2 linked regions of the Homo sapiens genome follow. The protein of the gene in region 2 interacts with the protein of the main gene of each other region in a pairwise test. Each region holds a gene or a part of one and is shown on either strand. Other genes may lie near its edges.

Region 1 (7,276 bases), about 95 Mb from region 2:
TTAAAGACACCTACTCTGGATATTACTCTTTCTCTTACCATCTCCTGGCCTTATCTCCAGATAAATATCCCTGCTGCCTTTAATATTATGGCATGATCTAAATCTTTCACAACCCTGGTAGCCTTTGAGGTAGTATGTTTTTCAGATTGCTTATTAGTCCCTTCTTAAAATTTGGCACTCTGAAATAAGCACAATAATCTGGATATCTGAAAGTGCTGAAGTGGTAGAACTTGTCTCCTAAGACAGCCTCATTACCTTGCAGTCAATTAAAACACTGTGAACCCTAGGTCTTTAGAGAAGCTGCAGTATCATCAGGTCTTTTCCATCTGCTTCTTCGTACAGGTGATTTGTTAATTATGAAACCTTTAGGCTTACAGAAGAATAAGTACCCATGTATCAACCACCCAAATTAAGAAACAAAATAAAATATGTGCAATGAAGACATTTGCCTTTCCCCTCCCTGAGTTTCCTCTTGCCTTTTATGGTTACTTGCTTTCACTCCTTAAATTTTTTGAACTTCCGGTGTTATTTAAAATTATTTTCCGGCTAGGCACGGTGGCTCACCCCTGTAATCCCGTCACTTTGGAAGGCTGAGGCGGGCGGATCACAAGGTCAAGAGTTTGAGAACAGCCTGACCAACATGGTGAAACCCCGTCTCTACTAAAAATACAAAAATTAGCTAGGCATGGTGGCTTGCACCTGTAATCCCAGCTACTCAGAAGGCTGAGGCAGGAGAATTGCTTGAACCCGGGAGGCGGAGGTTCCAGTGAGCCGAGATCACACCACTGCACTCCAGCCTGGGTGACAGAGACTCTGTCTCGAAAAAAAAAAAAAAAAGAAATAAAATTATTTTCCATTTCCCTGGTCTCTCTGATAATCTTGACACAGCTGGCCATCTCGTTCTTGAATTCACCCCACTTCTTCAGCTTCCATGCTTCTTCTCCACCCGACTCCTTCCTCAACTCTGGCTGTTACTACGTCCCATTTAAATAGCACCTCTTACCCTGCTCTCCTCTCTGAAACCCGTTCTTCACCTTTTATACCCTATGATCTCTTTCTAAAGGATCTTATCTAATTTCATGGCATTAGATCTCTTTGCTTGAGTCCTGTTCATTCTTTCAAATACCTGTTTGCATAGTTAACTGCCACCATCACTGCATAATTAGCACAGCTAAAAGGGTCCAACTTCCAATCCAGCTTTCTTTTGACTTTCACATTCCTGTCAATGGCACCATTCCCAAGATTACTTTGACTTGAAATTTATAAGTCACTGACTTTTTTGAGAGAGGATCTTACTCCATCACCCAGGCTGGAGTGCAGTGGTACTATCATGGCTGACTGCAGCTTCAACCTCCTGGACTTAGGTGACCCTCCCACCTCAGCCTCCCAAGTAGCTGGGACTGCAGGTACACACTAGCATGCCTGGCTGTTTTTTTTCCTGTAGAGATGGGGTTTCACCATCTTGCCTAGACTGGTATCAAACTCCTGTACTCAAGTGACATATTTGCCTTGACCTCCCAAAATGCTGGGATTACAGGTGTGAGCAACTGAGCCTGGCAGAGTCATTTACTCTTTGACTCCTCTCTGCTTCCCCATTGCAGTTACCAATTCTTTCTTGTCTTTCTAGCATCCATCAACTGTCATCAGTGTTCACTCAATAAAATGTTTCTCAGCTGGGCATGGTGGCTCATTGCCAATAATTCCAGCACTTTGGGAGGCCAAGGGAGGAGGATTACTTGAGTCTAGGAATTTGAGACCAGCCTGGGCAACACGGTGAGACTCTGTTTCTACAAAAATTTAAAAATTAGCCAGGCGTGGTGGTGTGCAACTGTGGTCCCAGTTATTTGGGAGGCTGAGGTGGGAGGATCACCTGAGACCTGGAGGTCGCTGCAGTGAGCTGTGATTGCGTCACTGCACTCCAGCCTAGGCCACCCATGACCCTGTTTCAAAAAGTTTCCCAAATGAATTCTACCCCAGTAAAGTGTCTCTTCAGAAACAAACAAACAAAAAACAAACAACAACAACAACAACAACAAAACCACACTACGTTGCTGGGCATTCCAGCCTTCCAACTAAGCTGCTTACCTCTATCTAGTCTCTCCCAACTCCAGTTCTTCCCATGTGCTGTGACTAGCCCTTTCTTCCTAAAATCACATATCATGGCTTTTACCTGCTCATAAGAGAACTCTGCATTCACAGGCCTCTCCAACTTTAACTCCAACAATTTCATTTCCCACTATTTCCAAACATAAATTCTACATTTGAAAAAACTTGCACTAATTCATCACTTTTCAGCTTTGTTCACACCAGTTCCTCTCCCTGGATCTTTGGCAAAGGCCATCAGCAGCCATCACACACACAATCATAAAAAAAGTAGGAAAAACACTGACCTTAGAGCAAGATTTATCTTGGAACATGTTTAGCCTGAGGATCTTAGGGTTGCTGTGAGTACTGAATGAAGTAACATGAGCAAAGACTCATTTGACAAATGGTAGCCTAGCCCAAGCAGGATAATCATTACATTTTAAAAATTTGATTTAGAATGTGAAGAGACTTAAAATGAAAAAGCAATGTTTTCACATTTCTTCACACACAAAAAAACACCAATGCATACTTATAAATACCCAGAATTAGAACTTTTTGTTTCTCTTGATTGACCTTTAAGTTAATCACCTGTGGCCAGGTACAGTGGCTCATCCTGTAATCCCATTACTTTGGGAGGCTGAGGTGGGAGAATCACTTAAGCTCAAGAGTTCAAGATCAGTCTGGGCAACATAGGGAGACCCAATATCTATTTTTTAAAAACCTTAAAAAAAAAAAAAAGTAAAGTAATCACCTGTATCACACGTCTGCTCAAGCCTGTCCTTTCTGCCAATTTCTGGAGTGTCTGTGCATCTGGGTTGTTGTCCTGAGCAAATTGTGCTTGCATAACCTGTTGTTTAAAACATGTATGTAGTAAATAGCTAAAAACAAGCAGCTCAGTCTTCTTCCTGCATTTTTATCATAAGAGGTAAGACATGCACAAGAACATGGGATACTTTTGTTACTTGAAAATCGGTATGGGGAAATATGGGTAAGTGAAAACGAATGCATATTTTGTAAATTTATACACAAGTTGCTATGCTGAGAACTTTAAAAAAATCCATTTCAATGTAAAACTCTCTCAACTATGCTGTTAAAAATAAGCTCACCTTTTCTTTTCTTTCAATCTTATAACCCACAAATCAAATAGCAAGAGTTTCATTTATTGTTTTTTCCATTTTGTTAAAAACTGCCAACATTTGAAAACTTAATACAAAAATCATATCACATTTGTCTCCAACCTTTCCTGAGCTAAAGATGTTCAAGGCCCCTAATACCTAATAGTATACAGATCAACAGAAGGATTCCACTTAATTGTAACAACTCCATCATAGTTTTGAGCACTAGCTCTATGCAAAAAAAAAGGTGTCTAAAAAGAGACACTCACCAGTCCACTGAATAAGAATTTACCAGAGTCTAAACATGTATATATTTTAAAAGCTTACAGGTGATTCTGATGTAAGCCTTTGGATTGAAACCACTATGCCAAGTGCTAAGAGATAGTGAAACATGAAACAAAACTCTTTGGATTTAATTTCCTGGCAGAAAGATGCCGACATGCCAATGACTACCTATAATAAAAGATAAAGGGAGAAGAGTAGTGTGGGAGAGAGTACCAGAATATAAGCACAAGCCAAAAACTTTGAATTCTTTCAGAAAAGAGAATCATTATGAGAATTAAGTGAGATACTTGAATTTTATTACTAAAAGTCAGTCAACTGAGGGAAGCATTACAAAATGTAAAAAATGTATTATTATGAAGAATGAGAGAGAAGAGCTTGGCACCCAATGTGATTGTGCTTGTCTACAGGCATAGGATGTGGGTAACCAATCTATTAAAGACCTCAAGCACTGCTGGACTTCACTCTTTTCAGCAGGCAAAATTAATTGCATTCTCCACTATGCTCCTCATATAATGCTATCTTCTGCCACTGCACTTGTCACAGGGTAGCTAAATAATTTGTTTTCAAGTTTATCTCCATAGTGGAAAGTGAGTTCCTTGAGATCAAGGGGAATGTCTTATTTTTCGTATCCCTAGGAGTTAAACTCCCTTTCTGTCAGAGAGTATGTTAAGAGTTTCTGACAGAGTAAAACTTGGCAATGTAAGGAAAATCTGAAGACAGTGTAGAAAAAAAGGCCAATATTGTTCTGGGAAACCTTCTGAGGTTTACAAATTTTGAGATTTACAAATTTACCCTTCTAGAATTAAGTATTCTTGGCTTCCCATCTAACTATATTGTATCTACAGACTCACTGTAAACAGAACATGGATTTTTGCTTTTAAAAAAGGGCAGAATTGGCTTAAAAGTTTATTCTTGCTCAGTTCACTTTATTCTTTCTTTCCTACTCCAAATGTGTTACTTTGGTATCTTCCTGTGAAAATAGAGTTATGTTTCTATGCAGTTGAACATGTAATAACCCCAAAAAGAACGAGCAAATTATGTCTTTGTTTTTTAATTTTTCAAATAGAAAAATGTTGAACAGATTTGGGGATTTTGTAAGGTCATTATTAATAATTTACAAAACAGAAACTTCATGCCTTTCATAAATGCATTTTTAAATTCACAAATTTAACTGCAATCAAATTGTATTTAGTTAAGTAATTTCTCATTAAAGAGTAAAGCAAAACAACTCTGATCATTTAGAATTGAAATATTCTAAAGGAAAAGTAAGATGAGTTGATTGTTCTTCCTTTCAATAGTATCAATGATTAGTCTCACACACACAAAAAGAAAAAAGAGGTACTTTTAATTTCTACTTAGTTTCACTATTCTCTAGGCACTAATGCTGCTGAAGCCTACTTCACTCCTTTTCCAAGTTCTTCTAACGTGGACAAGGAGTGAGCCTCTGTAGACACTCATCATTTTTAGGCCAGGAGATCTACCAGAAAAGTCAGGAGGCTGCATAGCAGTAACTCGATCTGAAAACAGACTAAAGCAGGAGCTAACTTTGGCGTGTTTAATATTAATAATCACTAAGTGAGTGCTTCTACATAGAATAAGCAATCCATAATATTAGCAGGAAATTCTTAAATATCATTTCTACAAATGGGACGGTATTTGAAATATATTTGCCAATACATCCTCTGAGTCTTAAACTATTTTTTCTCCCCATAAATCTCTATAGAATAATTTTGGAAAATTTTCTTATTTATCCCTTCCATTTTAACTCTCCTCTGTCCAAAGCAGGTACTGACTAGATAGTCTTGACTTACTCACTGGTCACATGTAATATTTTATTATCTTGCCAAATTCAAGCTCTAGTTGAAAATATTCAGCATTCCTAAATGTAGGAGAGTTTGACAATAAGGATACCGATTTATTAGAGTGTCTGGCTAAAATAAATGATTCAGTTTTTTAAAATATCTATTTCAGATTCCTAAATTATAAAGAACCACTTTAGGACAAAGATTGTATCTCATTTGTTTCAGCCACCCCTTCCATAAGATAAAATGCTAATAAATATTGAATGAGAATATACTTTGAAAGCATATTACCTATGCTTTCATCAGTAATCTGAAAATGGTAATATGCTTTCATTTTTTAAAACCTATAATTCTGATATACAATTTTTAAAACTTATGATTTAGATCACATTTACATACCATAATGTAAGGCTTAAATATTTTATGCATGTTTAACCATAAGGCTATCTACAAGATTCAAAATCTCACTCTTTTGTTTTAGCTGCTGCTGCTATTAATTGGAGTTTTGATAAGACAGACTTCCACTCATGGTCTCCTGGAAGATCAAGCAAAATGAAGAGACCAGATGTTTGAGGAGAAGGTTCCAAATCTCTTCTCAACCACTCCCTTGGTGGTTTGCTTTGAGGAGTTCCTGCACTCTTGAATGAGGTTTGTTGTAAAAGTTAAAGGAGATAAAGTAGATAAATGCCTGGTATAGGATTTGGCATAAAAAGACCTCCACAAATATTATTCCCATTTTATTTAATTAGTATTTGTAATTATTTTCCCATAGAAAAGTGTCTATCTACAGTGGTTTCAAATTTTCACAATTTTATTTTTAATAATAAATTATTATATCAAATGAAAGTTATCAACCTTGTAATTATTAAAATTACAGCCAGTCCTTCATGGGAACAGACCATTGTGAAAACAGATTTATATTAGAGATTCTATTTTAACTAGACACCTTTAGTGACTGAGTATTTTTCCAGGTCTTTCAGAAGTACTCACATCTTCTGACAGGGCATTGTGTGATCTTCATAATAATCCAATGAAGAACCCAGAAAGCAAGGCTCAAACAGAGATATTTCTTTCAATTGGCTTATCTTTCATTTTTTGCTTATTGACTATGTACTTTATGCCTAAATTAAGAAATCGAATTTATGCCTAAATTAAGAAATCTGAAACAATCATCCATTTGGAAAATTCTTCTGAATGGATCTAGATTTTAATGCTAGAGTGCTTCCCATTGCCACGTTCCCTTGGAATATGTGTGTCACATCAAGGTTTCTTTTCTAAATCATTCTCAAAATAAAAATTATCTCCTGAAACACTTGTATCCATCTTAAATACTGGCAGGTCTTAGAATACTAAACGTGATTTTCGAAAAAGTTACTTTTATTCATTTGTTAACACTGCATAAATGTCCTTTAAAGTCTGAGCTAAGATGGATACTATGTATAAGGTACCCAGCAGTGTGATAGGCGTTCAACAAATGTTACTTTTCCTTAACATGAAACAAATACCTCAGCCACATTAATCTTTTAGAAAATATGATTTCATTATCTGCAAAAATGCCAGAAGGAATCATTATATAGGTTTATAAAGCAAAGAGTAATTTAATTATTTTGATAATTTGTATAAATCAAATTTATAACAATCATGTTTAGGGCAACTAAGCTAAAAAAAATCCCTCCCTTTTCAGGGGACATAATAAAACTTTAATATCAAATTATAGAAGTACTCCCTTTACCACCTTTAAAAACATAAAGGAATCTGCTCAATTGTAGTCAACCAGTAGTTTCCTATTTACTTTAAGGCACTTTCAATTATTTCCTACTCAAAAACTGTACAATTGTGTTCATTAAATGACTCATTGCAGTTTGTTACAAAGACTAACACATTAGCGTCCCATAGACTCACATGGGACATGTATGTCTCTCTTCAGAGTCTCAAAATATTTTGTCTTCCATTGCAATTATGTGTAGTAATATAAATGCCTGGTTCAGA
Region 2 (7,836 bases):
GGACCATGGGTAAAAGCAACAATGCTAATCCCTCTGTTCTGGAGATAGAGTGCTGGCCAGATTGTCACAACCTCCTGCTGAGTAGGGAGGATTATGCTTAGCACTTGATCTTGCCACCTCTTCTTGGGCACAGTTAATGTTGGCAGGTACCTATCCTGGGCCAAAGGGCGGTTAATTCACAAATTAGCCATCAATTTCATGGCCTGAGTGAAGAGATAAACTGGCCAGATCATTGTCTCCCCCAGGAATTTGAACTAAGAACAATTTTTGCCTATTAGAAGCATAGCCGAAGGTAGAAGGATGCTATGAGGTGGAGGTGGAGCTACGGCAAACCAAAGCCACATGAAGTCAGAAACTTTCCAGAGGAAGTCAGTTGGTAGTAAAATTTTAAAAAGCAAACACTGGGACCGTAGCTTAGTCATACTTAGGGGGCACATTACTACTATCCATCTCAAGACTACCGGAAGCCCAGCCTCAAATCTAATTCCACCCAGATACCCTAACATCCCATTGACACCCTTACAACCAGCCCCCTTTTCCTCAGGTAACTTGAATGGGTCTATGTTCTTTGAAACTAATTGCCATTTCATAGGCAGAAAGCTCTACTTGGTCTCCAACTCCTGCCTGAAAAGCCAGTCAGACTGGAAGAGTGAGTTACAGAAGTGTTACTTTGAAAGTATCTGAAGCTAGTCTGACCGTCTCTCTCTCACCCACAAAACACAGCTTTCCAAAATCAACACACAATTAAGAGAAAAGCAGAGAATAAGGGACTGTATATTAATGAATATCTTCTTCGCAGGAAATCATGCTGTTTATTTAAGTGTTAATATTAATCCTCATGGGAGATAAGACTGCCACCAGGATTCAGGGTCAGTGCTCTGGCTGATGAATGGCAGTCACCAGAGGCAAGAGAAAGGAACATTTAATTTACTTAGCTATTTCTAAATAGCAAAATACTTCCTTGTGGGAACATTGGCCTTGCAATAGCTATTAACCTTAGATTTCATATGAATTCCACTATAATTAACAAAGTTATAAAAGCATTAGGAAGTAGTTAAAATTCATTTTTCTTACTGTATTTTAGGTCTAAGACTAAAAAAATCACTTAAAAATTAAAAAGGGATGACTCAATTTCTTGAGAGAACTGGAAAGGATGCCATTTTCTTGTTTTGAAAGCATGTTAACTTTGACAGAAGTCCACTGATACCATCAGTGTAATACTGACAGTGGTAAGATTATATTGTATGTTCCCAGTGCAAACTTTATTGGGGGAAAATTAAAAAGGTGTGCTGATTATTGCAATTTGAGAATGTTTTGAAGCAGTAATTCTTCACACTAATATATCTAAAGAAGCACAAATACTGTTATATGAAGAAGTTTTTTTGTTTGTTTTTTGTTTTAAATAGAGATATGGTCTTGTTCTGTTGCTGCTGGCCTAGAGTGCATTGGCGCTATCCTATCTCACTGTAACCTGGAATTCCTGGGCTCAAGCTACCTGCCCTCCCCAGCCTCCCTAGTTGCTGAGATTACAGGCATGTGCCACCATGCCCGCCAGTGCTTTAAAAATGATAATTCAGCTAAAATTGATTTATTGAAATGTAAGAAAAACACTTGGCCTTCCAAAATGCTTTCCTGTTGTTTTGAGGACGGGGAAAACACAAAATCTTGCTCATTAGCTTTGAAATTAAAAAGTCACAAGAAGGTAGAAAAGGATATCCTAGTATCCCGTAATAGGTATTTCGTAGCACTTAGCATCTCCACTCTATAATAAAATGCTGAGTTGACAGTCTCTGACTTGAATATGCATCAGTCTTCCCTTTAATAATCTCCCTCCACTCTTTTGCCTACTTGGGCAGCACATAAAATTTCTGGACCGCTTGTAGATTAAGAAAACCCTTGTCTAGGTCAAAGGGCAACTCATACACTCAACTAAGAAACCCGTGTGCTCTATGGAAATGTTTCTACCAAATATTTTCTTTTCCCAGCAATTACTCGAGACTACCTTGGTCCTAGCTCCCTTAGCTTGAAAGTTCCAAAGATAATGGCTTGCACTCTGAGTATTAAGGATGCACTGTACTGGCTGATATTCTGGTATCCAGCGGTAACGTTACTCCGGCCCTTGCTTTCGTGTTTCAGGTATATATTCCCTCTGCGGAACTCAGTCCAGCATTGCTAGCTGACAAGCAATACACAATTAAGTCTTTATGGACCAAAATAATTGTGATTTCAGCTCAAGATACATTTTATAAGAACATGGGTCCCTAAAAACAGCAGTTAACAGTGACCCCCAAAATTCGAGACCCGACTCCGAGAATTTCACATGGATTCCTGAATATGCTCTTCCGAGAAATGTTTCATCTTTATTCTAAACAGAAAGCACTATGCCAAGACAGGAGCCAGCTGGGCCTTGGGGGACGGGCACTGGTCTTGGATCAAGAATGAGGCCGCCTTCCCGAGGGCGGGCGCGCCCCCAGGATCCCCCCGGGCTCGGGCACTGCCGCCCCGGGACAGTGACCCGCCCAGCCGAGCACCCTCGCCCTGCTTGCCGCGACCCCGCGGGGTCACTGAAGGGCCGAGGCGCCGCTCTCGCTTCGCTGGCCCCTCACCTTCCACACCTCCCTGCGAGGACCGACTCCGCGGCCGCCTTGGAGAGCTCTGGCCGCGGGCGCCTCACCCGTCGGGGGCCGCCCGCGAAGCGCAGATTACAGGGCGCCCCACAATCAGCAAGGGGAGGCTGCTCCGAAGCTGAGAGCACAGCTCAACCGGCCGCCGGCGCCGCGCCGAGCTCGCTCCCGCGCGGGCCCCAGAGCGCAGACCCGCGAGCGGGGCGCGCGCCCGCCGCCTCCTCCCCGCCCGGCCCCTTCCCCCACGGCGCAGTCCTGCAAGGACTGGGGGCGCAGCGCAGGGCTCCCTGTTACCTGCAGGAAGGCGGCGGGGGAGGAGGCCGAGGGTCTTGGCTCTGGTACCCTGTTGGCCCCCCTGTTGACACCAACCACCCCTGCCTGCCTGTAAGGCTGTGGCCACTACACCCACAATCTTCTGGGGGCCGGGTTTCTCCTACACCATAGAGACGGGTCCGGAAACGGGACAGAAGGCCCACCTTCCTCCCTCCGACGCCACCAATGAGGCCAACTAACCAGGAACCGAGGTAGAGAGGCCGCACAGCTGAGTCTCAGGCCGGTGCCATCTTAAGTGTGGGCGCCGCGACGATACCGAGTTTCACTCACTGCCCCAGTGGTCTAGTTAGTCCACGAAGATGCCCCCTTTCTAGATGTGTTGGTCGAATGCTTAAGTTTGTCTTGACTTGAATTTTTAGGCTTTTAACAGCACAGTTTTAATTTCATTTCCGCCCAAATCCAAAATGGCTGCTGGCCACTTGTAGCAAACAGTAGAGGTGCAGGGCGGAGAAAAGGAGTACGGGAATTAGCGAGGACTTTCAGGAGAGTGACGTCACTCAACCTGTAGCTTTGATTGGCTGGGCTGCGAGGGTGGAGTCGTGCAGAGCCGCTGCTGGCGGAGGTCGTGGTGATCTCGCTTGATCTTTGAGAGGGAAGGTCCTGAATCACATTTCATTTAGCAAAAAGTAATATTTGAAAATTTTAATATTAATGCAGTAGTTTTGCCCCCCTCCATGCTTTCTGCAGTGTCAGTTACCTGTGGTCAAACCTTGGTTCAGAAATGTTAAATGGAAAACTCCAGAAATAAACAATTCTTAAGTTTCAAACCGCCTGTATTCTGAGTAGCCCGATTAAATCTCGGGCCATCCACTCTGTCCCACCCTTGACGCGAATCATCTGTCGCAGGTAGCCGCGCTGTGTACAGTATCCACTCATTACCCACTCAGTAGCTGCTTTGGTTAACAGATGCACCCGTAGTATAGCAGAGATAATGAGAGATACCACCTGCTTATGTTCAGGTAACCCTTATTTTACTTAATAATGGCCGCAAAGCACAGGAATTGTGCTGACAATTTGGATATGCCGAGGAGAAGCTGTAAAGTGCTTCCTTTAAATGAAAAGGTGAAAGCTCTGGACTTAATAAGGAAAGAAAAAGAGTCATATGCTGAGGTTGCCAAAATCTATGATAAGAACAAATTATCCATGAAATTGTGAAGAAGGAAAAAGATTCGTGCTAGTTAACTAAGCACCTATCATGCACTGTGGCTGTAACTTTTGTAGTTTGAGGTGCAACAGCAAAAGACGGAAAAGGCATTACATTTGTGGGTGGGAGACATGAACAGAAAACGTATTTCAGCTGACCGCAGTAAGTTTTGCCAGAAAGTGTTGAGCCTATAGGAAGACTTAAGAAAGGGATCCCCTGAAATTAGGCACACCAAGCTATTTACTGCAAGTAAGGGATGGCTACACAGATTCAGGAATAGGTTTGGACTGAAAAACATAAAAATAACTGGAGAGGCCACATCTGCTGATGAAGAAGCTGCCACATGTCTGGCAGAGTTGAAGACATTGGTTAAGGAGAAAGGCTTCCAGGAGATTGATGGATAAGTTAGGAAAATCATTCAGGTAGCAATGAAACTGCCTTTGCAAAATTATGACTAAGGCAGTTAAAGAGATCCAATTTAACCAACTCCATCTTGTCCTTAACCTCCATGCTATCCTTGTTCATTCCTGGGCATAGGCTGAACTAACTTTGGAAGGAAATTAGTTTATAATTTACAGTTTAAAACAAAAACAATAAAAGCCCTTTCCCAAAACCAACCTCCTTCTTGCCTGGGGTCTAGACTACCAACATTAGCCACAAGATTAGAAATTATGGTTTGGGAGTCATGCAGCTGGAGGCCACAAGATTCTGACCCTCCCTAAACTGCTCCTGAGATCAGTGCTTCAGATGTTTTGCAGACCCTGCACTTGATGGATCAGCTGGCAACACCCAGATGATAAACTGGCCCATCTGATCTTGTGACCCCCACCCAGAACTGACTCAGTTCAAGAAGACAGTGATGCCCCATAGTTTCATCTCCGACCCAACCAATCAGCACTCCCTGACTTACTGCCCCTCCCCACCCACCAAATTGTCTTTAAAAACTCGACTGCTGGAGGAGACTGATTTGAGTAATAATAAAACTCTGGCCCCCCACACAGCCAGCTCTGCATGAATTCTTTGTCTATTGCAATTCCCCGTCTTGATAAATTGGCTCTATCTAGGCAGACGGCAAGGTGAACCTACTGGGCGGTTATAGCAAGACAAGTTGGTGAAAAAGGATTTGTCAATATGCTTGATGAAGAGGTGGGAGAACATATCAAAGGCCTCACTATCCATTCTGAGGACAGGTTTAACCTTCTCAAACTAGAAGCAGGGCTTAGTCACCCTGGACAGTCTCTAGTTCTGTGCCTCCTCCCACTTCCTCTATGTGGTCAGTCCAGACATCTGCCTTGTATGACCGCCTCTGGTGACCACCTCCCTATCGAACCATCAGGTACAAGCTGCTTGCTTCATCCCCTTGACCCCTATACCCCACATATACTTTGCAGATATGCCTCAGTGACCACCTCTTAGTCACAGTGGGACTAAGATGTTGGACCCAGGACCACAGTGAAGGCTTTGGCCCGCAAGTCCCTCTCTCTGTCTCGTCCCCCTCCCACTGGTTGAGCATGTGTGTCCCCCTTCTCATTGGCCCTGTGAGGCATGCTGTCCTCTTATTATGGATCTGTAAGTAATGAAACTGCTTCTATTATTTCACATGTTTTGTTCACCTCCTCTGTGTCTCACCTGACCTATACACCCACACCTGACTTGTTTCCTGGTTAGGGCTCTCCTAGAGAGTGGCTGTCTTGGTTGGAATAAACCAGACACGGGGCAGACAAGAGCCACAAATGTGCCTGCTAATATAAACAAGCTTCCTGTGAGAGGGACCTCCTGTCATGGGTCAGACACCTAGGATTTAGGCCGTCTGCCAGGATAAAGAAGTATTCCATGGAAGGCACACTGTAAATATCCAAGCCCCATCACGGAAGAGCTAACGTTTATAACCACTCCCAGAGAGAGACCTCGAGACCGAATTAGAAAAGAAATACAACACATAGACCCTAGGTTTACTAGCTCCAACATCCATTCCCACTCCTCACCCCCTTCTCCCTTGTTCACCTTCGATAAAGAAGTTAAGAAATCAAAAAGATCACTTTCTGAGCCTACTTTCCCGCTAGGGTGGTCACAAGTTCTGGCCGGTGAGACATAGCAGAAGTTGGGAGGAAGATAGACAGTGGATTAGGAAAGGTTTTTCCTCCCTATTAAAGGAAATGGCTGTGGGTGTAACAGCAGCAGCCACCCAAGCACCAGGAGACAGCGGGAGAACATGCTGAGGATGTCGATTTGAAAGACAGAAGGATTCTCTTGCCTTTCACACTATCCCTCGAGAGTTCATAACTATGTTTTTCCTCCTTTTACAGGAGGAGTAGAGATGAGTCCCTTCAACCAGTACGTGAAATCTTCTGCAGTCAACACAGCTACTTGCTGGCCCACCCTCTTCCCAGTGTCCTCACCTCTGAGTCTTTGCTGGCCTTCCCACCCTGTTCCTTGCTCCCTAATCTTATGTCCAGATGTGCTGAGCTCCAGGGTATCCTCTATAATCATTCATCAGCCTAGAGGACTCTGTATTTCCTTTCATTTCCCCAAGGTAAACCCACTCCTCCAAATATCAATGAGAAGGGAATATTTTGCAGTGAATGGAGTAGGAGAGAGATGGGAGGGAGTTTGACACTCAGTCCTTCCCCTCTTCACTCTTCATCTACTCACCTATTTGCTCTTGATGTCACTCAGGTCTCTGAACAAATGTCACCTGTTCAGACTCTTAAAGATTTGGGGCATTGAAATCACAGGCTAACTTGTATATTTTTGTCCAACAAAGATGCAAATCTTTCTGTCCAGTGGAAAAGTTAACCCCAAAGTTTATTCTTATTGCACTAGAGAGCATTTCTCATTTTAAAATCTAATCTAGTAATCTTACTGTATTTCTTTATAAAATTGCTTGTAAGTATGTAGCTACACAAATGCTCTTTGAACAGTCTTAATGTCTTTTTAGTTTCCTCATTAACTAATGTGTTCATTTTATATTTGCATGAGAGTTATAATTATATTTTGAAAATTCTACTTGAATGCAATTTATCAGAGACAGCTCCCCTGAAAACACTGTCTAAAACAGCACCTTACCTGCCTCTTCCTGTCTTTTGACTTTGCCTTATTTTGCTTAACACCAATGCACATATTTGTTCAGCATCTCTGTCCCACAGCTAGAACATCAGCTCCCTGAAAACAGGGCTTCCTTCCTTCATTTCTTTCTTTCCTGCCATATTTCTAGCACATAACACAGTGCCTAGAACATACTAGGTACTCAGTAAATATTAAACACACAAATGAATTTACTGAGAGCACACTGCATGTCCCAGGCACCCTCCCTACATCTCTCTGCCTCCCAGCCCTTACCCCACAGAGCCCTCTATAGCTCTGGTTCCAGTTCTCAGTTCCCTGGAGCTGCTCTCTGAGCTCCTTCTGCCTTTCTTATGCATAGAAATCTTGTATTCCCTCACTGATTCCTCAGTCCTCATTTTAAATATGTCTAAGGCCAGGAAAGAAAAGAATCTCCAACAACCTGAATCCGCTGTCCTTGGAATGTGGCTGGTGGGACAGTTAGAAACAAATAGTTTGTTTTCTTAATAGAAATAATTTTTTCTTGTCATACTGTTTAAGGATCAACCTGAATTTTACTTCCAACCAATCCTCTTCTTAATTCAAATCAAAACATGTCAATGGTATTCAGCTTGACTTTTAGGTGTTTTTTTAATTAATCTTTTTCATGTTTCTAACTTAGATTCCCAAGTA

The links.
Region 1: the proteins of SCYL3 (region 2) and LHX8 interact in binary tests that used the Homo sapiens proteins (3 or more experiments, as listed by UniProt).

Annotation. Positions count from the first base shown.
Region 1 is NC_000001.11:75,144,243-75,151,518, reverse strand, and holds part of LHX8 (LIM/homeobox protein Lhx8), read right to left. Parts: intron 2,933-7,276; coding exon 2,837-2,932; intron 1-2,836. UniProt on the Homo sapiens protein: Transcription factor involved in differentiation of certain neurons and mesenchymal cells.
Region 2 is NC_000001.11:169,890,870-169,898,705, forward strand, and holds the start of SCYL3 (protein-associating with the carboxyl-terminal domain of ezrin), read right to left. Parts: upstream 3,028-7,836; 5' UTR 2,919-3,027; exon of another isoform or gene 2,607-2,918; intron 1-2,606. UniProt on the Homo sapiens protein: May play a role in regulating cell adhesion/migration complexes in migrating cells.